Regions from separate parts of the Homo sapiens genome. Here region 2 is linked to region 1. Evidence: fine-mapped expression QTL. A gene starts in region 1. The other region holds a variant in brackets. All regions are shown on one strand. Distances are from middle to middle. Region 1 holds the start of GPR35 (G protein-coupled receptor 35). Region 2 has its middle 24 kb from the start of AQP12B.

Region 1 (9,496 bases):
CTTTTCTCTGGCTCTCCCAGGCTCCTGCTTCCCTGACATCGCCTCACAGACTTCCCTTCAAAGCAGGGCTGTCCAATCTTTTGGCTTCCCCGGGCCGCATTGGAATAAGAAGAATTGCCTTGGGCCAAACATGAAATACACTAACACTCACGATAGCTGATGAGCAAAAAAAGGTCTCTGCGTAAATCTCATAATGTTTTAAGAAAGTTTACAAATTTGTGTTGGGCCACATTCAAAGCCCGCAGCCCGAGTGTTGGACAAGCTTGCTGCAGAGGCTCCCCTAGATAGGGCTGCAGGGGTGGCGTCCGGCAGCTCTAGCTGGAGAAGCAGGAGGAGGGGCAGGAAGGAATCCTGTTCGGAGCTCCTCGCGTCACACATACAGCCCAGCGGGGTGAAGTGGGAGGGGCTGGCGCTGCTGCAGGGGGCTAACCTTGGGGGTGAGGGGGCAGCCTCGGAGAGGAAGCTGCCCAGGAGCAGAGGCTGGGGGCGGAGGGCCCCGGGCAGTGCCCCCGTGCCCACAGCAGGACCCTGGCTGCCAGTTCTCCGCAGAGGGCCAGGTGGTCTGAAGCTGCCCAGCAGGGAGAGAACAGGCCTGGCCTGGACTGGAAACCTGCCATCTGGCCTCTCGAACCTGGGGACTCCGGGTGTCCTCGAAGAAGGGCCTGAGCAGCAGCAGAGGACCCCAGGCGACCGTGCCTGAGCCGGGCGCCGACGACGACTGAGCACCTGATATGTCCCCGGCACTCGCAGCCCCGCGGCCGGAGTCGCTGTGGGTGAGCGGTCGTCGAGCTTCACAGAGGCCGGGCTCTGTGCCAGGGCCCCGACAGGGCAGGAAGCAGATAGAGTCCCACAAGCACAAGCCCAGTGCGCAGAAAGGGTTACTTAAAAAATAAGTTCTGTGATAAAATCAAACAGGGTGAAGGGCTGGAAACAGGTCATGAGGGCGCAAACAGGTCGTGAGGGCGCAAACAGGTCGTGAGGGCGCAAACAGGTCGTGAGGGCGCAAACAGGTCGTGAGGGCGCAAACAGGTCGTGAGGGCGCAAACAGATCGTGAGGGCGCAAACAGGTCGTGAGGGCGCAAACAGGTCGTGAGGGTGCAAACAGGTCGTGAGGGCGCAAACAGGTCGTGAGGGTGCAAACAGGTCGTGAGGGTGCAGCTTTGGGGAGAGAGGGGCCCTGGGGGTGAGCGGGGAGCTAGGAGAGAAACAGCGCTCTGGAGGGGCCCGGGCAAGGCCTGCCTGAGTGGGAGGGGGCAGAGCACGAGGGCCCAGGCTCCAGGCTGGGTGGGACTGCCCTGAAGTGCCTGCGGAGACAGCCAAGGGGCAGATGGAGAGAGGTAGGGGGTGGGCTGGGGACAGCGTTTCCTGTACACAGGTGGAACCTGGTGGCAAGGGGCCCTTCCCAGAGACAGTCAGAGTCTCTAAATGTCCAGTTTCTTCCCCAAGTCCACACAGCCCAGAAGAATCCGCTGGGACCATGTGGCCCTGCCCAGTGGGGCTTCCCTTCCAGTGTGTGAGGAGCACAGGTGCCAGGCCACGTCAGGGAGGCCAGGCCTGGTGGGGACGGGGTGCCCCAGGCCACTGCTGGGGAGGAGTGATGCCCAGCAGAGGGGGCACGGTGGAGTTCATGGCTGGCCTGGTGGTGGGGGGGGTGGGGGAGCTCTGCAGGGCCCTGGCTCTGGTGGGCTGGGTAGGCCTGCTTGGGGCACCATCTGATCTGCCAGAGGTGGAAGGAGCACTCCTGGGAGATGCCGTGCCCTGCACCTCCAGTCCCTGCTTGACGGCGGCCGGGCTTGGACTGATCAGGTGCCGTGCCTTCTGCTGACCCCAGAGGCCAGACCCTGTGGCCAGAGTGAGGGATGGATGAAATCCCAAATCTGAGCCTCCTGCCCGAGGATGAGGCCCCTCTCCAATGAACATCATGGCCCATGGAGACTGGGCAGGGAACCCAAGGGCGCACACTGGGGACTGGGCCTGGAGGGACAGCCGGGGAAGCAGGAGGAAGGGCAGGAAGGACAGCAGGAGGAAGCAGGAAGAAAGGGACAGGAACCAGGCCCGGGATGACAGCAGAGAAGGACCAATGCCCAGCCAGGGCTTCCTCACGTGCCTCTGGGTAGAGAGCCCTGGTCTGGCTCAGGAGGCCCAGGCACTGGTCTCAGACCTGCCACCACCTGTGTGACGCTGGGCCAAGCGCTTCCCTTCCCTGGGCGTCCGTTTCCACCGCTGTAAAGTGGGGAGGGGTGAAACTGAAGCTCTCCCCAGCCTATCCCAGCCGTTGAGGAGGGAGAGGCTGTGGTCAGGGGCTGTGGGGCCCACGTTGAGGAGACGAGGCTCCTGCCCTCAGGGTGGACAGGGCCCAGGAAGGGGGTGCTCTGCACCATGGGGGCGCAGCCTGGGCCTACGGGCTCCCCCACCATGAGCTCAGAAGGAAGATGTCCGCTGAGGAGTTGGGGGCCAGGGAGAATATTCTAGACCAGATAGGGGTGGTCTGGGTAGGCTTCTGAGGGGGTGGGCTTGGAGGAGGGGCCGGTGGCCAAGTCGGGGGGAAGCAGGGGAGGAGCCAGCCTGCCTGCGTGTGCCTCTCACCTGTGTGCATTGGCGTGTGCATGTGTGTGTGCATGTGTGCCAGCGTGTGTGTGTGTATTGGAAGGCGCCCACGGAGCGTGTCTGCATGAACCAGGATGAGTGTGCGTGCTGCACCCTGTCTTGGGGCTGGGCATGAGGCGCTGGGGAGGGCGAGCTGACCGCAGACCCTGGGAGGGCTGGGCCCTGGGAAGGTTTCCGAGATGACAGGGCAGAAGTGGGCTGGGGAGGAGGAAGGCTCCGTGGGCGGGGCTGGAGCGTCTCTGGTTTTGCTGTCTGTCTCTCACGCTGTTTCCAGAACAAATGTGTGCCCTCAGCAAGGATGCTGGCTCTTCAGAGGTGTCAGCACAGGCAGCCGGCACCCCACTTCCCTCCCAGAAATCCCCCACGCCCTCTAGCTGGGGCTGGTGCAGGAGCAGTGGGGAACTCCTGTTACCCCTGACCTGCTGCCGTCAGTCAGCCGCCCGCCCCCCCACCTTAAGGAGGGGCAGAGTCAGGGACCAGCCCTGAGGGGTGGCTCACCCCAGCTTCACTTCCCCCAGCCCTTCTCAGACAGCCACTGTGCAGGCTTTGGCAGCGGGGGTCACACACTCCACCCGGGAGGCCAAAGCTGCCTGCAGGTCAGTGCCGCCCACTGCCCTAGGGGCCTCCCAGCGGGGCAGGGGCATGGTGGGGGTCTCAGAGTGGGGTGAGGCTGTGATGGGGTCTCAGAGCAGGGTGAGGCTATGATGGGGTCTCAGAGTGGGGTGAGGCTGTGACGGGGGTTCTCAGAGCGAGGTGAGGCTGTGACAGGGTCTCAGAGCGGGGTGAGGCTGTGATGGGGGTCTCAGAGCAGGGTGAGGCTGTGATGGGGTCTCAGAGTGGGGTGAGGCTGTGATGGGTGTCTCAGAGTGGGGTGAGGCTGTGATGGGTGTCTCAGAGTGGGGTGAGGCTGTGATGGGGGTCTCAGAGTGGGGTGAGGCTCTGATGGGGTCTCAGAGTGGGGTGAGGCTGTGATGGGTTCTCAGAGCAGGGTGAGGCTGTGATGGGTTCTCAGAGCAGGGTGAGGCTGTGATGGGGTCTCAGAGTGGGGTGAGGCTGTGATGGGGTCTCAGAGTGGGGTGAGGCTGTGATGGGGGTCTCAGAGTGGGGTGAGGCTGTGACGGGGTCTCAGAGCGGGGTGAGGCTGTGATGGGGGTCTCAGAGCGGGGTGAGGCTGTGATGGGGGTCTCAGAGCGGGGTGAGGCTGTGATGGGGTCTCAGAGCGGGGTGAGGCTGTGACGGGGTCTCAGAGTGGGGTGAGGCTGTGATGGGGGTCTCAGAGTGGGGTGAGGCTGTGATGGGGGTCTCAGAGCGGGGTGAGGCTGTGATGGGGTCTCAGAGCGGGGTGAGGCTGTGACGGGGTCTCAGAGTGGGGTGAGGCTGTGACGGGGTCTCAGAGTGGGGTGAGGCTCTGATGGGGTCTCAGAGTGGGGTGAGGCTGTGATGGGGTCTCAGAGTGGGGTGAGGCTGTGATGGGGAGTCTCAGTGAGGTGAGGCTGTGTTGGGGTCTCAGGTGGGCTGAGGCTGTTGGGGTCTCAGGGGTGGCTGAGGCTGATGAAGACTTGGAGCCTGTGTCTGGGTAGCAGCTTGTTGGAGTGTGGGATGTGACATTTAAAAACAAGAATGAAGAATACCCCGTGCTGTGGCCCCGAGGTGAGCAGCTACTTTGGTGAACTCGTGTCACTCACAGCCCCATCCTGGGTCCTGGGGTGTGGTGTGCTGTGTGGGGCCCAGGCCCAGTGGGGTCACAGGTACGGGGGACTCTGGTGCCTGGGCCACAGGGATCTGCACCTCACTGCGTGCCCCCACGTCTTCAGCAGTGGTTGGGGCCTGTGGTCTCAATCCCAGGCCAGCCAGGCACTCTGGGGTCTGGGCGGGTCCCGGGTCCAGACAGGGGGAAGGGCTGGGGAGGGGCTCTGGTGTGGCTGGATCGCCCGTCTATGGCCAGGTTTCTCTCCTGGATCACTCAGTGCAGAATCAAAGGGCACTTTTCTGCTTTTGTGTGCAGAAGCCGAGGGTGACCTTGTCATCAGAAGGGGAAGCGGGGCCTCAGAGGCGTGCTGCTGGCTCCAATCCCCAAAGCCTCCTGGGCAGGAAGTGGAAGGGCCCCATCCCCACGGTCCCCGGCAGCGGGAGCTCCCTGAGGCTGATGGTGCTGGTGTCTGTCGAGGAAGACAGGCCTGAGGAGCTGAGGCGGGAGGCCAGCTACGGTCCACGGCCTGGACACAGATTCCTGTGCGGGACTGGGGCAGTAGGTGGGCATCTGTGCTGGCCATGTTAGCTCCCAGGGGCCCCATGCCATCTGGGCTAAAGCCTGGGCCTTGATTTCCTGAACTTTTCTGGGAGGCACTCCACGGGCGAGACAAGGACCCATGAACAGGGCACTTCTTCGAAGCCTACGTGCACCTCGAAACTCTTGCAACATTTGCATTTTTCTCCCTAATAGTTCAGTGTTTGTTTTATTATAAACAGGAAAATTTAAATGTTGTAGTTAGAGTTTTTTTCTTCTTCTTAGAGATGGGGTTTCACTCTGTCTCCTAAGGCTGGAGTGCAGTGGTGGGATCATAGCTCACTTCAGCCTCAACCTCCTGGGCTCAAGCCGTCTTCCTGCCTCAGCCTCCCGAGTAGCACGCATCACCAGCCCAGCTAATTTTCTGTCTTTTTTTTTTTTTTTTTTTTTTTTTTTGTAGAGACGGGGTCTCCCTGTGATGCCCAGGTTGTTCTTAAACTTCTGGCCTCAAGTCATCCTCCTGTCTCAGCCTCCCAAAGTGTTGGGATTACAGGCATGAGCCACCGTGCCTGCCTGCAGTTAAACATTCCCCCACAAAATACTGGGCCACACCGAGGCTAGTATGAAAGTTGCAGCCCTGGGTATGTGTGACCTGAGAGCCCCTTGGCAGCCATGGGGAGCGATGGGGGAAGCTGGGGCAATGGGAAGGGGTCTAGGCACACGAGCCCTCGGGTCCTCACCTCCCACGAGGCAGGGTCCCAGGCTGCCTCTACTCAAGGTGGGGCAGCAAAAGAATCGCCCTCTAGCTGTGCAGACCCCCTCCCCCTCCAGGTCTGCACACCGCCCAAGGCTGGCCCTGGACTTCTGGTGGATTCAAGTACTCAGGTGGGGAGAGTAGGAGGCCAGTCGCACGGAGCCCTCCCCAACGCACAGTGCCTGCCCAGCTCAGGTGCCTCTGAGGTGTAGATTCTGAGCAGGTTCTGGGATCTCCTGGCCCCCAGCGGGGGCTGCCACAGGAGTATAGGCCCAACAGGAAGGGAAGATCCCAGCGATTGGTTCCAGTGGGTTCTGGGGATGTCCTCGGAGCCTGGCCTGGCTCAGGGTCCCTCCAAAAGTCCCTGGAACGAGGGTGAAGTGTTGCTCATGAATCAGAGAGAAAGCAAGCAGGACCCTCAAGAAGGGAGGAGAGAGACCACTGGGCGTGCAGCACTTTGCACTCGGGGGAAGGGCTCCTGAAACTTGGAAGTCAGCAAATATCTGCTGTACTTCACCAGAGGTGGGATCTAAGGAGACAGAATGAAGCCAGGGGGCAGAATGTTTCGTTTCTGTCTGAAACCTGTGCCCTCCATCCCTCATGGACTGGGGACCTGGAGTTCCCGGGGACCACCGTGGGGAAATGCGTCCCAGCACTAATGGTCCCCAGCAGCTGCAGTCACGGGGTTTGGGCGCTCTCCCCTCCTGATTTGGGGGACCTTTTGTGCTCCTCTGGGCAGAGGGAGGAGGCAGAGGGAGGAGGAAGGCCCTTCGCTGTGGGCTGAGTCCTTCCCACCTTCCATACCAGCCCAGCAGGAAGCCACTGCAGGATGCCCCAGAGGACAGCCTGATGGTTGGGGGAGAGGCTTCTCCCGCCCTCACCCCTCCGGGTTCTTCCTGGACCCACTGAGTAACCCAGGTGGTGGGACGTGTGGCTGTGAGTCCTGGACTCTGGGCGCTCACCAGCAGCTCCGTCTCACACCTGCCTGCGTGTGACACCAGCACCCCTTATGATGAGGAAACAAGTTTGCCCAGCTGCAGGGGTGGCCGAGTCAGGATGACTCTAGCCCGTGTCCTGGACACCAGACCCTGCCCAGGTCCAGCCGGGGCTGGTCTCAGCCTTCCTGGGCTATGTCGCGGAGGGTGTTGGGGACAGCGAGAGGCTGGCGTGGACAGTGGAGGGGTGACTTTGTGGGTGGTCCTGATAGTGACGGAGAGGAGGATACTCAGCTCCACCCCTGGGCGGCCCCTGAGCAGCACGACTGGGCCTGAAGGGGCAGGGCTGCCGTCACAGGCTCTGGCCCCTGGGAGCTCAAGGGGTGAATCCCTGATCCCAGGTGTGGGACTGGGATGGGGCCTCAGGCTGATGCAGGCAGGACCTCCAGAGCTCAGGACTGGGTGGGTGGGCTCACAGGGAGGTAGGGGCAGGCCAGAGTCCCAGCTGTCCTGGACTCTGCTGTGGGGAAGGGCTGATGCAGGTGTGGAGTCAAATGTGGGTGCCTCCTGCAGCCGGGTGCCAGGAGGGGTGGAGGGGCCACCCTGGGCTTTGTCCGGGAGCCTGGTCTTCCCGTCCTTGGGCTGACAGGTGCTGCTGCCTCTGAGCCCTCCCTGCTAAGAGCTGTGTGCTGGGTAAGGCTGGTGGCCCTTTGGGCTCCCTGTCCAGGATTTGCGCTCTGGAGGGTAGGGCTTGCTGGGCTGGGGACTGGAGGGGAACGTGGAGCTCCTTCTGCCTCCTTTCCTGCCCCATGACAGCAGGCAGATCCCAGGAGAGAAGAGCTCAGGAGATGGGAAGAGGATCTGTCCAGGGGTTAGACCTCAAGGGTGACTTGGAGTTCTTTACGGCACCCATGCTTTCTTTGAGGAGTTTTGTGTTTGTGGGTGTGGGGTCGGGGCTCACCTCCTCCCACATCCCTGCCCAGAGGTGGGCAGAGTGGGGGCAGTGCCTTGCTCCCCCTGCTCACTCTCTGCTGACCTCCGGCTCCCTGTGCTGCCCCAGGACCATGAATGGCACCTACAACACCTGTGGCTCCAGCGACCTCACCTGGCCCCCAGCGATCAAGCTGGGCTTCTACGCCTACTTGGGCGTCCTGCTGGTGCTAGGCCTGCTGCTCAACAGCCTGGCGCTCTGGGTGTTCTGCTGCCGCATGCAGCAGTGGACGGAGACCCGCATCTACATGACCAACCTGGCGGTGGCCGACCTCTGCCTGCTGTGCACCTTGCCCTTCGTGCTGCACTCCCTGCGAGACACCTCAGACACGCCGCTGTGCCAGCTCTCCCAGGGCATCTACCTGACCAACAGGTACATGAGCATCAGCCTGGTCACGGCCATCGCCGTGGACCGCTATGTGGCCGTGCGGCACCCGCTGCGTGCCCGCGGGCTGCGGTCCCCCAGGCAGGCTGCGGCCGTGTGCGCGGTCCTCTGGGTGCTGGTCATCGGCTCCCTGGTGGCTCGCTGGCTCCTGGGGATTCAGGAGGGCGGCTTCTGCTTCAGGAGCACCCGGCACAATTTCAACTCCATGGCGTTCCCGCTGCTGGGATTCTACCTGCCCCTGGCCGTGGTGGTCTTCTGCTCCCTGAAGGTGGTGACTGCCCTGGCCCAGAGGCCACCCACCGACGTGGGGCAGGCAGAGGCCACCCGCAAGGCTGCCCGCATGGTCTGGGCCAACCTCCTGGTGTTCGTGGTCTGCTTCCTGCCCCTGCACGTGGGGCTGACAGTGCGCCTCGCAGTGGGCTGGAACGCCTGTGCCCTCCTGGAGACGATCCGTCGCGCCCTGTACATAACCAGCAAGCTCTCAGATGCCAACTGCTGCCTGGACGCCATCTGCTACTACTACATGGCCAAGGAGTTCCAGGAGGCGTCTGCACTGGCCGTGGCTCCCAGTGCTAAGGCCCACAAAAGCCAGGACTCTCTGTGCGTGACCCTCGCCTAAGAGGCGTGCTGTGGGCGCTGTGGGCCAGGTCTCGGGGGCTCCGGGAGGTGCTGCCTGCCAGGGGAAGCTGGAACCAGTAGCAAGGAGCCCGAGATCAGCCCTGAACTCACTGTGTATTCTCTTGGAGCCTTGGGTGGGCAGGGACGGCCCAGGTACCTGCTCTCTTGGGAAGAGAGAGGGACAGGGACAAGGGCAAGAGGACTGAGGCCAGAGCAAGGCCAATGTCAGAGACCCCCGGGATGGGGCCTCACACTTGCCACCCCCAGAACCAGCTCACCTGGCCAGAGTGGGTTCCTGCTGGCCAGGGTGCAGCCTTGATGACACCTGCCGCTGCCCCTCGGGGCTGGAATAAAACTCCCCACCCAGAGTCAGTCCTAGTGGGGCCCTCTGTGTTTCGCACTCGTGTGGTGGGAGGCAGGGAGGGAGCGCGTGGCTCAGAGGGCTGGCGGACATCTTCCAGGGACCCTTCGGGGCTCTTCACTTTGAGGTCCCCCTTGGACCCTTTCACCCCTTCCCACCCCCACCCACCTGGAGCGTGAGCAGGGGCTGTTGGAAGCTCCTGGCAGGACCACAGTAGAGGCCCCCAGCCCAGGTTTCCTTGCTCAAGACAGGGCTGGGAGCAGCTGATCTCCATGTAGGGGCTGCACAGCGGTGCAAGGGGGGGTGACCAAGGTCAAGCAGGTGAGGGTGGGTTGGGGTGGGTGGCAGTGAAGGGGGTGGCCAGGGTCTGTCAAGGAACCCAGCCCTCTTCTCCTTCCTTCAGGGAAAGGCTGGAAACCATGTCTGGCAGGGGCAGGGGTTGGGTGCCCACTCAGGTAAAGGCACGATGTCCTGCTGGTTTCTGCCTCTCCTGTACTCCTGCATGGAGGGCATCTCGAAACCCAAGCTGGAAGGACAGGGCACTCCAGAGACCTCCTGTGAGTGTGGGCCAGCACGGCCTGGGCTCAAACCCCATCCTGTCATCCCATATTGCATGTCC
Region 2 (16,112 bases), 32 kb after region 1:
CAACCATGCCTACATATTGGAGCCCCAGTAAAAACTCTGGGCAGAGAGCATCAAGTGAGCCTCCCCAGCTGGCCGTGCTGCAGGTGTGTCACCACACGTACATGCCAGGAGAGCAAAACTGGCCTGACCACACAGGGAGAGGACAACAGAAGCCTCTTGTTCTCCTGGATTCTGCCCTGTGTGCAGCTTCCTTGGCTGACTTGAAACTGTGTCCTTCTTCTGTGATAAACTGTAACCACACCTATAACAGCTTTCGGTGAGTTTTATGAGTCTTTCTATCAAATTACAGAACCTGAGGGTGGTGTGGGGTTCCTGGAACTTGTAATTGGTGTCAGAAGTGAGAGTGCTCTTGAGGACTGTTTTCTCTGTCGTCACATTTGGCTAAAGCTCTTGGAGTTGGAGTTGGAATTGGAAGTGAAATTCACTAGAATGACCCTGACTCACTGAAACGTGTGGTTTGGGAAAAGGATCAATGAGAGGGCAGGGGATGAAGGACCTCTGATTTCTGGATGGCCATGGGTCACGTGTGGTATGGAGCTGCAGCCCTGCTGTGGTCAGTTGCAGGAGGTAAAAGTTTCCAACAGAATTTGGAAATGATGGATCCAGATCCCCAGGAACTGGCTGGCCGGATGAATAAGGAAATACAAAGTAACAAAAACCAAGCTACATATGCAATCTCTTGGTTATTGTGTTCCCTAAAAGCTAAAACAAAAGTTAAGAGAGGGTGAAAGTAAAAGAGAGATCCTTCATCCCCTGCCCTCTCATTGCTCCTTTTTCCATACCACATTTTTTAGCGAGTCAGGGACATTCTAGTGAATTCCACTTTCAGCTGCAGGAATTTTATCAAACTGTAAAGGCAGAGAAAACAGTCCTCAAGACCACTCTCATTTCTGACAATTACAATGATAGGCTATTACCACGGAGACACAACAGTAGGCTATTAACTACTAACAGCCCGCTGTTGACCCGAAGCCTTACTGATAACATAAATAATTAACACTTATTTGGTATGTTATAGGTATTATAAATTGTATTCTTCCAATAAAGTAAGCTAGAGAAAATAAACTATTATTAAGAAAATCATAAAGAGGGGAAAATACATTTACAGTACTGTACTGTATTTATCAATATCATTAAGTTTTCTGTCATCTGTTTACAAGATGAATTGTCTCTCTGAAATGGCACAACCGCACCTGCAGACCTCAGTACGTATCCAACAATTCAACTTTTTTCTTGTAATGTCATGACTTTTCTCTGCTTCTTGGGCACTTCCAGCATCACTAGTGGCACTTCATATGGGTCCACTGTGAGTTATTGTTTCTGTAAAAGCTGAAATGAAAGCAAGAGAGAGGTTCTGAGCCTGAGCCAATGGGTAGTGAGGCCGAGGTGGTTGCCTTGGGGCCATGACCGATGGGAAGGTTAGAGGGAAAGGTAAGGAAGATGTTGGGCTGAATCCTGACATTGCACCAATCCTGGGTTCTGGGAGGTCCAAGCTATAGTCGCTGGCCTCAGGGCCAAAGGAAAAAGTTGTGTGGAAACAACAGATTGTGGGGAAATTCAGACTGCTTTGCAAAAGAATGAGGAAAGTCAGGTGGGAGAGTGAAGGAGCCCATCCCAGCAGGTGAACATCCTTCAACAGTTATTAAGAAATGGAAAGAACATGGCCGGGCTCAGTGGCTCATGCCTGTAATCCCAGCACTTTGGGAGGCTGAGGTGGGAGGACCGCTTGAGGCCAGGAGTTTGAGACCAGCCTGGTTACATAGCAAGACCTCATCTCTAATTAAAATAATAATAATAAGCCTGGGCGCGGAGGCTCACGCCTCTAATCCCAGATCAGGAGTTCGTGACCCGCCCGACCAACATGGTGAAACTCCGTCTCTACTAAAAATACAAAAATTATCCAGGTGTGGCGGTGGGAGCCTGTAATCCCAGCTACTCGGGAGGCTGAGGCACAAGTATCACTTGAATCCAGGAGGCGGAGGTTGCAGTGAGCTGAGATCACGCCATTGCACACCAGCCTGGGTGACAAGAGCAAAACTCCATCAAAAAAAAAAAAGAAAGAAAGAAAGAAAGAAAGAAAGACAGACAGACATGGGCAGAGCAAAGCAGACATTAATGGGGTTAAAACAACACTCTTACGGCAGCACTCTCAGAAACTGGAACTGCTGGGAGCTCCTGTGTGCCCCAAACTAAAGGGCCTAAACCTATGTTCATCCAGTTTGGAGAAATAGAAAACATTAGAAGGCAAAGGTGACCATGAGCAAGTTGGCCTCCAGTCACCTAGAGTGATGCTCCTGCAATCCAATCAAGATAAGGGCTTGATTGATGAGAGGGTCAGGCATCCTTTGGCCTGACCCCTGGCTGGGGACCCAATGCTATACACCCATGAGTGGGTAAAATGCTCAGGGGATGGAGAAGAAATGTTTCTGGGACTCCTCAACACGAGAGCCCCATGCACTGAGATTGCTCCATGGTGAGCAGGTCAGTGCAAACCTACCCGCAAAGGCCCCAGGAGCTGAGAGGCCGAAGAAAGAAGCTGACAAATACAGCTTCTCAGAAAGAAATATAGAATAGGGACTTATGTGGCTCACGCCTGTAATCCCAGCACTTCGGGAGGCCGAGGCAGGTGGATCACCAGGTCAGGAGATCGAGACCATCCTGGCTAACACGTGAAACCCTGTCTCTACTAAAAGTACAAAAAATTAACCAGGTGTGGTGGCAGGCACCTGTAGTCCTGGCTGCTCGGGAGGCTGAGGCAGGAGAATGGCGTGAACCCAGGAGGTGGAGCTTGCAGTGAGCCGAGGTTGCGCCACTGCACTCCAGCCCGGGCGACAGAGCGAGACTCCATCTTAAAAAAAAAAAAATAGGGACTTATGAACAGAAGCCACGTCTCAAGGGGCTGTGAGCCACTTGCCCTCCAGAAAGCATCTTTTTTTTTTTTTTTGAGATGGAATCTCCCTCTGTCACCCAGGCTGGAGTGCAGTGGTGCAATCTCAGCTCACTGCAACCTCTGCCTTCTGGGTTCAAGTGATTCTTTTGCCTCAGCCTCCCAAGTAGCTAGGATTACAGGCATGTGCCACCACACCTGGCTAATTTTTGTATTTTTAGTAGACATGGGGTTTCACCATGTTGGCCGGGCTGGTCTCAAACTCCTGACCTCAAGTGATCCGCCTGCCTCAGCCTCTGAAAGTGCTGGGATTACAGGTGTGAGTCACTCACATCAGGCCAGAAAGTATCCTTTATCTAGCAAGCTTGTGTGATAGAACGTGTGCAGCTGGTCATATCTTCGGACATTCTTGCCAAGACGTGTGTCCACTGAGCAGGTTAGATAGACGTCTTTTTGAAGGGTTCTCTCTGCTGCAGGCAATGTCTACAGACCCTACTGCAGAACACCTTGGTATGTGGGGATCAAACACTGGTCATCATGGTGTTTTTGCTTCGAGATAAATACACAGCAACAGGCTGTTCTCCTACTGTGATTCCAAACCTGTTGGTGAAGTCTCTGTAGAAGCTACAGCTGGGGTGGGAGGGTGCAGGAAGCAAAGGTTGATGGGATGAAGGTGAAAGTTCCGATGAATATCGGAATGTTTGAGCAGATTTTATGTGATGTGGTTGCACCTGCTGCACCTGAATGTGTCATGGGGGTAGATACTGCATCTGGCTGGCAGATGCTTCCCTTAGGTCACATGTAAAACAGAAGACAGGTGTATTAGTCCATTCTTACACTGCTGATGAAGACCTACCTGAGACTGGGCAATTTACAAAAGAAAGAGAGGTTTAATGGACTTACAGTTCCACATGGCTGGGGAAGCCTCACAATCCTGGCAGAAGGCAAGGAGGAGCAAGTCATGTTTTACGTGGTTGGCAGCAGGCAAAGACAGAGCTTGTGCAGGGAAACTCCCATTTTTAAAACCATCAGATCTCGTGAGACTCATTCACTATCATAGAAAGACCTGCTGTCATCATTCAATCACCTCCCACCAGGTTCCTCCCATGTCATGTGGGAATTGTGGGAGTTACAATTCAAGATGAGATTTGGGTGGGGACACAGTCAAACCATATCAACCATATCAACAGGTAAATCTACCTTTCAGCCAATATTGGCTGGGCATGCTAAATGGAGCCAATAACGTTGTCTAAGCCCACAGAGGTCATTAATTTGAAACAGTATTAAACAGCTGGTGGACAAAAAGGGCTTACCACTTGAATGAATGCCCTGTTAGAAGCAGGAGTGCAGGCACACATTCTCTGTATGGTCCAGCCCTGTGTGAGGCAGACCAGGACTCACAGTCAAGCCTGTGAGCACCATCCAGCAGTGAGAAGTGCGATTTTGGACTGGAAATTTCTGTTTGAGAGACAATTTGCGGGTTACTGAGCTTTGATTAAGACTGTTCCTATGACTGAAGGACATAAAATAACCCCAGAACCTGAAATACCCAGAATGTCTTAAGCATTGCCAGAGAAACACTCCCATGGAGAGGTCAGTGCCCAAAAGAATTCCGGAATAAAATGGAAATTTTATTTAATTTATGTATTCGGGTACAGGTACATGCTCCTGGGGGAAGGTAGGAGGAGCTCATCACCCCATGAGCAGAGCCTCTTTTCCCCGAGGACGGACGTTGGAATCCTCTGAGGAGCTGCCAGATGCTGTCACCATGAAAACAGTGCCCAACGGATCAGCAGGAAGCTGCTTGGTTTATGGACAGCAGGTTCAGGCAGAATGGGGAGCATCCTGTTTGGAAGGCTGTCCCTCTGTTTTGTTTTGTTTTTTTTGTTTGTGTTTTGAGACAGGGTCTTGCTCTGTCACCCATGCTGGAGTGCAGTGGTGTGATCACTGCTCATTGCAGCCTCAGACTCCCAGGCTTGAGTGATCCTCCTGCCTCAGCCTCCCTAGTAGCTGGGACTACAGGCACCCGCCACCACACCTGGCTAAGTTTTAAAATTTTTTTTTAGAGATGGGGTCTGGCTATGTTGCCCAGGTTGGTCTCAAACTCCTGAGCTCAAGTGATTCTTCCTCCTCTGCCTCCCAAAGTGCTGAGATTACAGGCATGATTCTCTGATTGAAGAAGGAAAAGTCAAACTAGCTCAGTGGGCTGACTTGCATGTGGTTTTCCTGTTTGGGTTTTTACTGACTCATAAGGGGTGGCCGGTGACATGGCCATGTGATTGCAGATAGCCAGTGGAAAACTAGTCTATTAAAGAAAGGGCCCCTTGAAAATCACCGTGGGAGTTTCAGGGGTGCATTAAAGTAGAACATGACAATATCCATCAGAAGAACCCCTTCCAGGATCAGAAGGTGATCGGAACTGGCAAATGGGAGTCCTGGTGCATTCACTTGGGATGGCCACAAGGGCCCATGGAAGCCGTGGATGTGGAGGCTGCAGCGGCGCAGGGAAGGGCTGCGCCTAAACATGTCCTCCCCCTCAACACACCCTCGGAGCCATGAGATGCAACTATCTGCTGATACAGAGACAGAGACTGCAGATGGCTGCAGGGCAGATTTACCTGGAAGCAGAGGGGGGTAAGGGGGAGGCCCTGCACATAGCTGGCAAGTAGAATTGATTCTGTAGCCCCAGAAGCCTACAAATAGGTCCTGAAAGGAACAGACACTGACTCTGGGCTGGGCTTTGCTTGCCCAGTGGTACATGCAAATACACAGAGTGCTGTAAAAGAGCTGGAACAGAAGCTTTCATGCCAGTGTGCACTGCTGAGTTACATTTCTTCACATCAAGAAACACACTCATCTTCAGAGCAATGGCTTGAGAAAGAATTGAAACAGGCAATTGAAACACTGGTTTTCCAAAAAGAAAGAAGCTATAGGCACCAAGGGCTGGTGTGTGCTCACACTGAACATGAGGGGCCAAGGGAGGGTCCCTGCTGGGGAGATTCCTCTGCTTTTCTGGGGAGCTGGGGAGGAGGGGGTCGGGGAGAACTCATATAATTATACAAGTCTTTCCGTGAGGGAAGGATAATGGTACAGTTCTTCTGTTTGCTGCATGCACATGAGTAATTGTCCCTGGTAATTTCTTTGCTCTGAAGGTTCTATCTGTATTAATAGAGCCATGATTACTTGATTTTGTTCATGTTCTCATGGTCTACCTTTCTCCATCCTTTTATCTTCAGCCTAATCATATAATAATTACAGTTGAAATGAGTTTCTGAAACACAGCGTGTATCGGGATCATGTTTTTGTATCCATTCTGCCAATATCTTTAAATTGGTATATTTGTCCATTTACATTTTATGTAAGTACTGATATAACAGGGCTTAATCCTGCCATTTTATTTTCTGTTTACTGTTTTTTCCCTCTGATTTTTAAAATAAACTTCATTTTTAATAGATTTTATTGTTTAGAGCCATTTTAGGTTCACAGAAAAATTGAGCAGAAGATACAGAGATTTCCCATATACTCCCTCCCCCCAACACATGCCTAGCCTCTCCATTGCCCACATCTATCACCAATGTGACATGTTTGTTACAATTAATGAACCTACATTGATATATCATTATCACCCAAAGCCCATGTCTTACATTAAGGGTCATTCTATGTTGTACATTCTATGGGTTTTGACAAATCTACAATGACATGTATTTACTATGACAGTATCATATACAGCATCCTACCTCATGTATTTACTATGACAGTATCATATAGAGCATCCTACCTAAAACTCCTCTGTGCTCCACCTGTTCATCCATCTTCCGCCTTCCCCATCCCTTGGCAACCACTGATCTCTTTACTGTCTCCATAGCTTTGCCTTTTCCAGAATGTCATATATTTGAATCACATAATATATGATTGATTGGCTTCTTTCACTTAGTAATATGCATTTAAGGTTTATCCATGTCTTTTCATGCCTTCATAGCTCATTTCTTTTTAATGCCAATAGTATTTTTTAAAAATTTTTTATTTCCACAGGTTACTGGGGAACAGGTGGTGTTTGGTCACATGAGTAAGTTCTTTAGTGCTGATTTGTGAGATTATGGTGCACCCATCACCCGAGCAGTATACATTGAACCCAATTTGTAGCCTTTTATCCCTCACCCCCTTCCTACCCTTTCCCTCTGAGTCCCCAAAGTCCTTTGAGTCATTCTTATGCCTTTGCATCGTCATAGCTTAGCTCCAACTTTTGAGTGAGAACACAGAATGTCTGGTTTTCCATTCCTGAGTTACTTCACTTAGAATAATAGTCTCCAATCTCATCCAGGCCACTGCGAATGCCATTAATTCATCCCTTTTTATGGCTGAGTAGTATTCCATCCATATATATATATATATTTCACAGTTTCTTTAACCACTCAATTGATGGGCATTTGGGTTGGTTCCACGTTTTTGCAATTGCGAATTGTGCTGCTATAAACATGCGTGTGCAAATATCTTTTTCGTATAATGACTTCATTTCTTCAATGTGATACCATCTTACTCCTGCAAGAATGGCCATAATAAAAAATCCAAAAATAATAGATGCTGGTGTGGATGTGGTGAAGAGGGAACACTTCTACACCGCTGGTGGGAATGTAAACTAGGTCAACCATTATGGAAAACAGTGTGGAGATTCTTTAAAGAACTAAAAGTAGAACCACCATTTGATCCAGCAATCCCACTACTGGATATCTACCCAGGTTTGTTCTTTTTGCTTAATCTTGCTTAAGGTCAATCTTATTTTCATTGTCTGAATTTATGCATTCACTTACTGAAGGACATCTTGATTGCTTCCAAGTTTTGGCATTTATGAATAAAGCTGTTATAAACGTCTGTTTGCAGGTTTTTGTGTGGACATGAGATTTCAAGTCCTTTGGATAAATACCAAGGTACATGATTGCTGCATCATATGGTAAGAGTATATTTAGTTTCGTAAGAAAGTGCCAAGCTGTCTTCCAAAGTGGCTGTGTCATTGTGTATTCCTACCAGCAGTGAATGAGCCTTCTTGTCGCTCTGCATCCTCACCAGCGTTTGGTGTTGTCAGTGTTCTGGATTTTGACCATTCTAATAAGTGTGTAGTGGCATGTTGTTGTTTTAAGTTTCATTTCCCTGATGACATGTGATGTGGAGCATCTTTTCGTATGCTTATTTACTGTCTGCTTATCTTCTTTGCTGAGGTATCTGTTAAGGTCTTTGACCCATCTTTTAATTGGGTCGTTTGTTTTCTTATTTTCGAGTTTTAGGAGTTCTTTGTATATTTTGGATGAGAGTCCTTTATCAGATACATCATTTGCAAAGACATGTCATTCCTTGTCTGTGGCTTGCATTTCCATTCTCTTGACAATGTCTCTTATAGAGCAGAAATATTTAATTTCAGCAAAGTCTAACTTACCTTTTCTTTCTTTCATGGCTATTGTCTTTGGTGTTGTGTCTAAAAAGTCATCACCAAACCCAAGATCCTCTAGAATTTCTCCTATGTTAGTTTCTAAGGGTCTACAGTTTTGTGTTTTACATTTAAGGATGTTATCCATTTTCAGTTTATTTTTGTGAAAAGTGTAAAGTCTGTCTAGATTCTTTTTTTTTTACACATGGATGTCCAGTTGTTCCGGTATCATTTGTTGAAGGGATTATCTTTTTGTTACTGTATTTCCTTTGCTCCTTTGTCAAAGATCCATTGACTATATTTATGTGCTTCTATTACGGGCCTCTATTCTGTTCCATTCATCTTTTGTCTATTTGTTCACCAGTACCACGCTGCCTTGATTACTGTAGCTTCATAGTGAGTCTTGAAGTCAAGTAAGTTCTCCGGCTTTGTTCTTCTCCTTCAGTATTGTATTAATACTCTGAGTCCTTTGCCTCTCCACATAAACTTTATTTATTTATTTATTTATTTATTTATTTATTTATTTTTGAGACGGAGTCTCACTCTGTCGTCCAGGCTGGAGTGCACTGGTGCAATCTCAGCTCACTGCTACTTCCGCCTCCCGGGTTCAAGCAATTCTCCTGTCTTAGCCTCCTCAGCACCACCACACCTGGCTAATTTTTTTGTATTTTAGTAGAGATGCAGTTTCACCATGTTGGCCAGGCTGGTCTCGAATTCCTAACCTCAAGCGATCTGCCCGCCTTGGCCTCCCAATTGCTGGGATTACAGGCGTGAGCCACCGTGCCTGGCCTCCACAGAAACTTTAGAATTTATTTGTTGATATCCACAAAATTACTTGCTGGGATTTTGATTGGGGTTGTACTGAATCTATACATCAAGTTGAGAAGAAGTGACATCTTAATAATATTGAGGCTTCCTGTCCATGAGCGTGAAGTATCTCTCCATTTCTTTAGTTTTTAAAAAATTATTTCATGAGAGTTTTGTAGTTTTCATCATATAGGTCATATACATATTTTGTTAGCTTTATAACTAAGTATTTAATTTTTGAGGGATGCTGAAGTAAATGGTAATATGTCTTTAATTTCACATTCCACTTGTCCATTGCTGGTATATAGAAGAGCAATTGACTTTTGTATTTTTTTTTTTTTTTTGAGATGGAGTCTTGCTCTGTCACCCAGGCTGGAGTGCAGCGGCACAATCTCAGCTCACTGCAAGCTCCACCTCCTGGGTTCACACCATTCTTCTGCCTCAGCCTCCTGAGTAGCTGGGACTACTACCACACTCGACTAATTTTTTTTTACTTTTAGTAGAGATGGGGTTTCACCGTGTTAGCCAGGATGGTCTTGATCTCCTGACCTCATGATCTGCCCGCCTCGGCCTCCCAAAGTGCTGGGATTACAGGCATGAGCCACCGCGCCC[G/A]GCCAACTTTTGTATGTTAATGTTGTATCCTGCAACCTTGCTGTAATCACCTGTATTAGTCAGTTCTTGCACGGCTATAAAGAAATACCTGAGACTGGGTAATTTATAAAGAAGAGGTTTAATTAGCTCATAGTTCTGCAGGCTGTATAGAAAGTATGGTGGCATCTGCTTCTGGGGAGGCCTCAGAGAGCTTTAACTCATGGCAGAAGGCAAAGCGGGAGCAGGCATCTCACATGGCGGGAGCAGGCATCTCACATGGCGGGAGCAGGCATCTCACGTGGCAGGAGCAGGACCGAGAGGGGAGTGTGCCACGCACTTTTAAACAACCAAATCTTGTGAGAACTCACTCACTATACAGAACCAAGGCAGGGGGACGGTGCTAAACCATTCATGAAGAATCTACCCCATGATCCAATCACCTCCCATCAGGCCCCACTGTTGTAATTCCCAACACTGAGAATTACAATTCAACAAGAGGTTTGCTGGGGACACTACATCACCTGTTAGTTCTAGGAGGGTTTTTTTTTGTCCTTTTTTTTTTTTTTTTTTTACATAAATGATCATGTCATCTGCAAATAAAGAATTTTATTTATTCCTTCCCAATCTATATACTTTTTATTTCTTTTTCTTGTGATATCACATTAGCTAAGACTTCCAGTACAATGTAGAAAAGCAGTGCTGACAGGGGACATCCTTGCTCCTGATCTTAGCAGGAAATCTAGTTTCTCACCATTATGTACAATATTAGTTGTAGGTTGTTTTTTGGTTTTTTTTGTAGATATTCTTTATCAAGTTGAGGAAGTTTCTCCTCTATTCTTAGATTACTCAGGATTTTAAATTATGAATGGGTTTTGGATTTTGTCAAATGCTTTTTCTGCACCTATTGTTGTGACATAATTTTTCTTCTTTAGCCTGTTGATGTGATGGATTATATTAATTGACTTTCTAATTTTAAACCAGTATTGCATACTTGGAATAAATTCCACTTTGTCATGGTGTATTTCCTTCTGTTTTGTTTGTTTTATATAGAAATTATTTTAAAAAATAGTTTTAGATTTATGGAAAAGTTGAGAAGATAGTACAAATAGTTCCCAGAGTGATGATCAGGGAGACATAAACTGGACGTGGGTTGAACAAGAGCCACAAATCTGCCAACATAAATTGTTTGTTTATATCTTCTGCACCCAGTTTTCCCTATCATTAACATTTTATGTCGATATGGTACATTTATTACAATTGATGTACAAATATTGATCATTATCTAACGTGGTAGTTTATTCTGATAGTTTAGTTTTTATCTATTTTTTTGTTTATATTTATGTCTCATTTAACACACTTTTTCGGTTCCAGCAGGTCATCCAGGCTATCACATTACATTTAGCTGTCATGACTCCTTAAGCTTTTCTTGGCTGTGACAGGTTCTCAGGCTTTCCTTGTTTTTGATGGCCTTGACAGTTTTGAGGAGTGCTGATGTAATGAGAATGCCACAGCAATGTTTGCTCCCTAGGCATTAGAAGTAGAACATCCAAATGGTTGAAGCCAGTGGCTAGAGAGAAGAACTTAGAAGTCTGGTATGCAACAAGATCTTCAAAACCAAAACCAAACAAACAAAAATGAACTTAGAGGCATCTTCCACACCCAGCAGACTGGGCTCCCTGCTTTCCTGTGGCTTCTTTCAAATGAACCTTTCAGACATTTCCCCATGAACTTCAAGTGGCTGGAGGATGAAGGACTTCCCTCCTAACTGTGCTCTTACTGTCCAAGATCTATTTGTAATAAATCTTTGAACATATTTCATATTGTGGTGGTGTACTGAATTTGCACCTTCCACCAGAAGAACACAAGGTCAGGCTCCCAGCATCAGAGTGATGGTCAGGCAGACACAGAATGAAGATCAGGCAGACATAAGCTAGACATGAGTCAGACAAGGGCCACTAAGCTATCTGCCAGTATAAACAAGTTTCCAGTGCAAGGAACCTCCCTGGTCACGGGTCAGACACTAGGTATTAGGTTGTCTTCCAGGTGATAGAAGTAGCCCATGAAAGGATACCGTAGGCCAGGCACGGTGGCTCACACCTGCAATCCCAACAGTTTGGGAGGCCGAGGTGAGCAGATCACCTGAGGTCGGGAGTTCAAGACCAGCCTGGCCAACATGGAGAAACCCTGTCTCTACTAAAAATACAAAATTAGCCAGATGTGGTGGTGCATGCCTGTAATTCCAGCTACTCAGGAGACTGAGGCAGGAGAATTGCTTTAACCTGGGAGGCAGAGGTTGCACTGAGCCAAGATCACACCACTGCACTCCAGTCTGGGCAACAAGAGCAAAACTCCATCTCAAAAAAAAAAAAAAAAAGGATACCGTAAACACCCATGTCCAGACCCTCTTCATTTTCTGTTAGGGCAGGGTTGCTAGCTGCTGTGGTACTGGAACCCCAGTTTAGCTGGGGGCTCTCAGAGCAACTGCTCAGGTATGTTGTAAAATGTAATTTTATTAGAATTTATCTGACTTTTTTCATTATGAGACTGAAATGATGGGTTTTGGGGAGAAGACTACAGAAGTAAAGTACCATTTTTGTCACATTATATCAAGGGTACATACTATTGACATCGTATCAACATCATTTATCCCTGTTGATGTTGACCTTGAGGTAGTGTGGTGAGTTTTCTCCACTGTAAAGTGACTATTTCCCCTCCCTCCTTTCCATACTGTATTCTTTAGAAGGAAGTCTTCATGTGCAACCCACAGTTTAGGAGTGGGAAGTTATGCTTCCTCTCCTTGAGGGAAGAGTAGCATCATAAAATATTTAGAATTTTTCCACACATGACTTTTGTTTCTTCTACCCCATTAACTTATTTATTCTACAATTAATTTATATCAGCATGGATTCATGGATTTTTTTTTATACTTTGGGCTATGATTAAATATTATTTTATTTGTTTTGTTAACTCTATTCCAATCTTGGCCACCGGGGAGCTCTTTCGGTTGGCTCCTGTGTCTCTCTGACGTGCTGCCACCAGTGTGGGTTTTTGTGTCCAGCACTTCCTAACTTTCTGGCACTACAAGATGCTTTAGGCTCATCTTTTATATTTCTAGCCCCGGTCCTAGAGTCATCCATTTCTCCAAGAAATCTTGGCTCCTTTTATTGGAGAGTGGTCTTAGAAATCAGGATCTGGGCCGGGCATGGTGGCTCACACCTGTAATTCCAACACTTTGGGAGGTCCATGTGGATGGGTCACTTGAGGTTGGCAGTTCAAGACCAGCTTGGCCAACATGGTGAAACCCTGTCTTTACTAAAAACACAAAAATTAGCCAGGTGTAGTGGCCCACATCTGTAATCCCAGCTACTTAGGAGGCTGAGGCACAAGAATCACTTGATCCTGGGAGGTGGAGGTTGTGGTGAGCCGAGATCACGCCACTGCACTCCAGCCTGGGCAACAGAGCAAGACTCCATCTAAAAAAAAAAAAAAGAAATCAAGATCTGGAAGCCGGGTATGCTTGTTGCTATTGAGGTGCTGATTTGTTTAGGCTCTCTCTGCTGACACAATGAGGAAATATATGTGTGTATTCTATCCCATGTATATACATATATTTATAAATATTTCTCTAAGTAATCATGACTTCATTTGATGTTTCCAAATCTATTACCATGTAGATTATTCTAGTTTCCTTCCCTTACTTATCCCACCCAGTAAGAAACCTGGCACCCACCATCTGCCATCCATTAGCCTAACTGTCCAACCTTAGCATACACATATAGTGGCATAAGAATTGTTCACCCTCACGCCTGTGGGAAATGACATTATCAGGTAGAGTACAGTGCTTATGTGCAGTGTCCTTTGCCTTCAGTCTTGCAGCAACACTCATTTCCAAGGTTACTTAGGTGAGCACCTTTTCTTTCCACTCCCTTCAGTGAGGTTGTTTTATACACTTGTAATACAGTTAGATGTTTTTGTCATAGTCTGCATTCTTTCCTGAGAGCCTCCAACCTCCTAAATGACTTTTTAAAATTTTGCATATGTTAACATTTATCTTTTATTCTGTAAAGTAGTATGGATTTTGAGAATTGCATAATGTCAAGTATCCACCATTATAGCATTATACAGAATATAGTACTTAAAGAATAGATTTATTGTCCTAAAAATTCCTTTGCTTCACCTTTTTAACTTTCTTCTTTCCCCTCAAATCCCTGACAACCACTGACATTTTCCATGTTATATCATAATTATTGATATATGCTATATAACCACTGTATAGTATATCACCTTTCAGACTAGCTTCTTTCATTTATCAATATGCATTTAAGGTGTCTCCATGTCTTTCTGTGGCTTGACAGCTAATTTATTTTTATTACTGAATAATATTCCATTGTATGGATGTACCAAAGTTTGCTTATTCATTCACCTGTTGAAGGATATCTTTGTTGCTTCTAATTTTTGGTGATTATGAATGAAGCTGCTATGAAAATTCACATGCAGGTTTTTGTGTGGACATAAAGTTTTCAAATCAGTTGGGAAAATCATTAGGAGTGTGATAGCCTGATCATATGATAAGACTATGTTTAGCTTTGTAAGAAACTGCCAAACTATCTTCCAAAGTGGTGGTACTATGTTGCATTCCCACCATCAATGGGTGAGAGTTCCTATTGCTCTGCATGCTCATCAACATTTGGTATTATCAGGTTGTTGGATTTTAGCCATTCGAATAGGTGTGTTATTATTTTAATTTTTAATTCTCTAATGATGAATTATGCAATTATATATATCAAATATGCATATGGAAATGTACATTTGACAAATATGCACTTCCATATGCATATTTGGTATCTCTGTATCTTTTCTGATTAGTTGTCTGTTCTGGTCTTTTGTTCATTTTTAATTTGGGTTGTTTTCTTACTAAATTTTAATAATTCTTTGTATAGTTTGAATATAAGTCCTTTATCAGATATGTATTTTGCGAAGATTTTTCTCCCATTCCATGAACTGTCTTTATATTTTGTTAACAATGTCTTTTGCTGGCAGAAAATTTTATCTAATATCCAAAGTTAATTTTTCTTTCATGAATTATGCTTTTGGAGTAGTATCCAAAAACATCATCAATCACAGGGTCACACAGAATTCCTCCTTTGTTTTCTTCTAGACATTTTATAGTTTTGCATTTTACACTGACGTCTATGATCCATTTTGGGTTAATTTGGGGAGAAAGTGTTAGGCTCATGTCTAGGTTTACTTTCACATAGACTTCTGTTTGTTTCAGCATTGTTAGTAAAAAATAACTACTCTCCTTTATTTCTTCATTTTTATTTCTTTCTTTCCAATATATATACCTTTCATTTCTTCTTCTTGTATTGTTTCATATGCTAGGAATTCCAGTGCAATGTTGGGTGGATGTGGTGAACAGGGACATCCTTGCCTTGTTTGTGATCTTAGTGGGAAAGTGACCAGCTTCTCACCATTAAGTGTGATGTTTCCTTGTAGCTGTAAGTTTGCTTGTAGATGAGCTTTATCAAGTTGAGAAACAGCATCTCTATTCCTAATTTGCTGAGAATTTTTCGTGAATGGATGTAGGATTCGGTAAATGCTTTTTCTAAATCATTTGATATAATCATATAATTTTTCTTCTTTAGCCTGTTGCTATGGTTATTAGAATAATTTTCAAGTATTGAAACAACCTTGGATATCTGGGTAGCAGTATATAATTTATTTTTTTATATGGTTGGATCTGACTTGATATTTTGTTGAGGAGTTTTGTGTGTATGTTCATAAGAGATACGGGTTTGTAGTTTTCTTTGTCTCCTTTGGTGTTAGAGTAATGCTAGCAGCGTAGAATGAGTAAAAAGTGTTTTCTCTACTTCTCTTTATTGGAAGAGATTATGGAGAATTAATATTAATTTTACCTTCCTTAAAGGTTTAGTAGAACTCACCAGTGAAACTGTCTGAAAGTACTGTGGTTTTTTGGTTGTTGTTGAAATCATTAATTATTCATTCAACTTCTTTATTATATACATGTAGACATGGCAATTCAGATAATCTTTTTCTTTTTTTGTGATTTTTGATTTTTGATATTTCAAGGAATTGGTTCATTTTGTTTAGTTATGAAATTTGCAGACATAGAGTGGTCATGGTATTCCCTTATTATTCTTTTAATGTCCAAAGAATCAGTAGTGATGATTCCTTCTTCATTTCTGATATTAGTAATTTGTGTCTTCTCTTTTTTTCTGGTGCAGTCTGGCTTGAAGTTTGTGCCAATTTTATTGATCTCCTTTAAAAAGCTTTTGGTTTCAGTGATTTTCTCTACTTTTTTCCATTGTATGTTTCATTGATTTCCGATCTAGTTTTTATTATTTTTGTTATTCTGCTTGTTTTAGCCTTAAATTGTTCTCTTTTTGG

What was found. PIP is the estimated chance that this variant, and not a neighbour inherited with it, causes the effect.
Region 2: its variant is the best candidate, but not a certain one, in a credible set for the expression of GPR35 in tibial nerve (GTEx, PIP 0.67).

What each region holds. Positions count from the first base shown.
Region 1 is chr2:240,622,366-240,631,861 of GRCh38, forward strand. GPR35 (G protein-coupled receptor 35) reads left to right here and starts at 3,115. Exons shown (of 2, transcript NM_005301.5): 1 at 3,115-3,203; 2 at 7,584-9,496. The coding sequence starts at 7,588. The coding sequence ends at 8,517. RefSeq lists enhancers at 2,312-2,461, 3,069-3,575 and a silencer at 7,747-8,041.
Region 2 is chr2:240,651,270-240,667,381 of GRCh38, forward strand. No RefSeq gene overlaps it. Among named protein-coding and RNA genes, the nearest start is that of AQP12B, 24 kb to the right of the region's middle. RefSeq lists a silencer at 5,062-5,111. The variant G/A (reference allele first, on the strand shown) is at 9,726.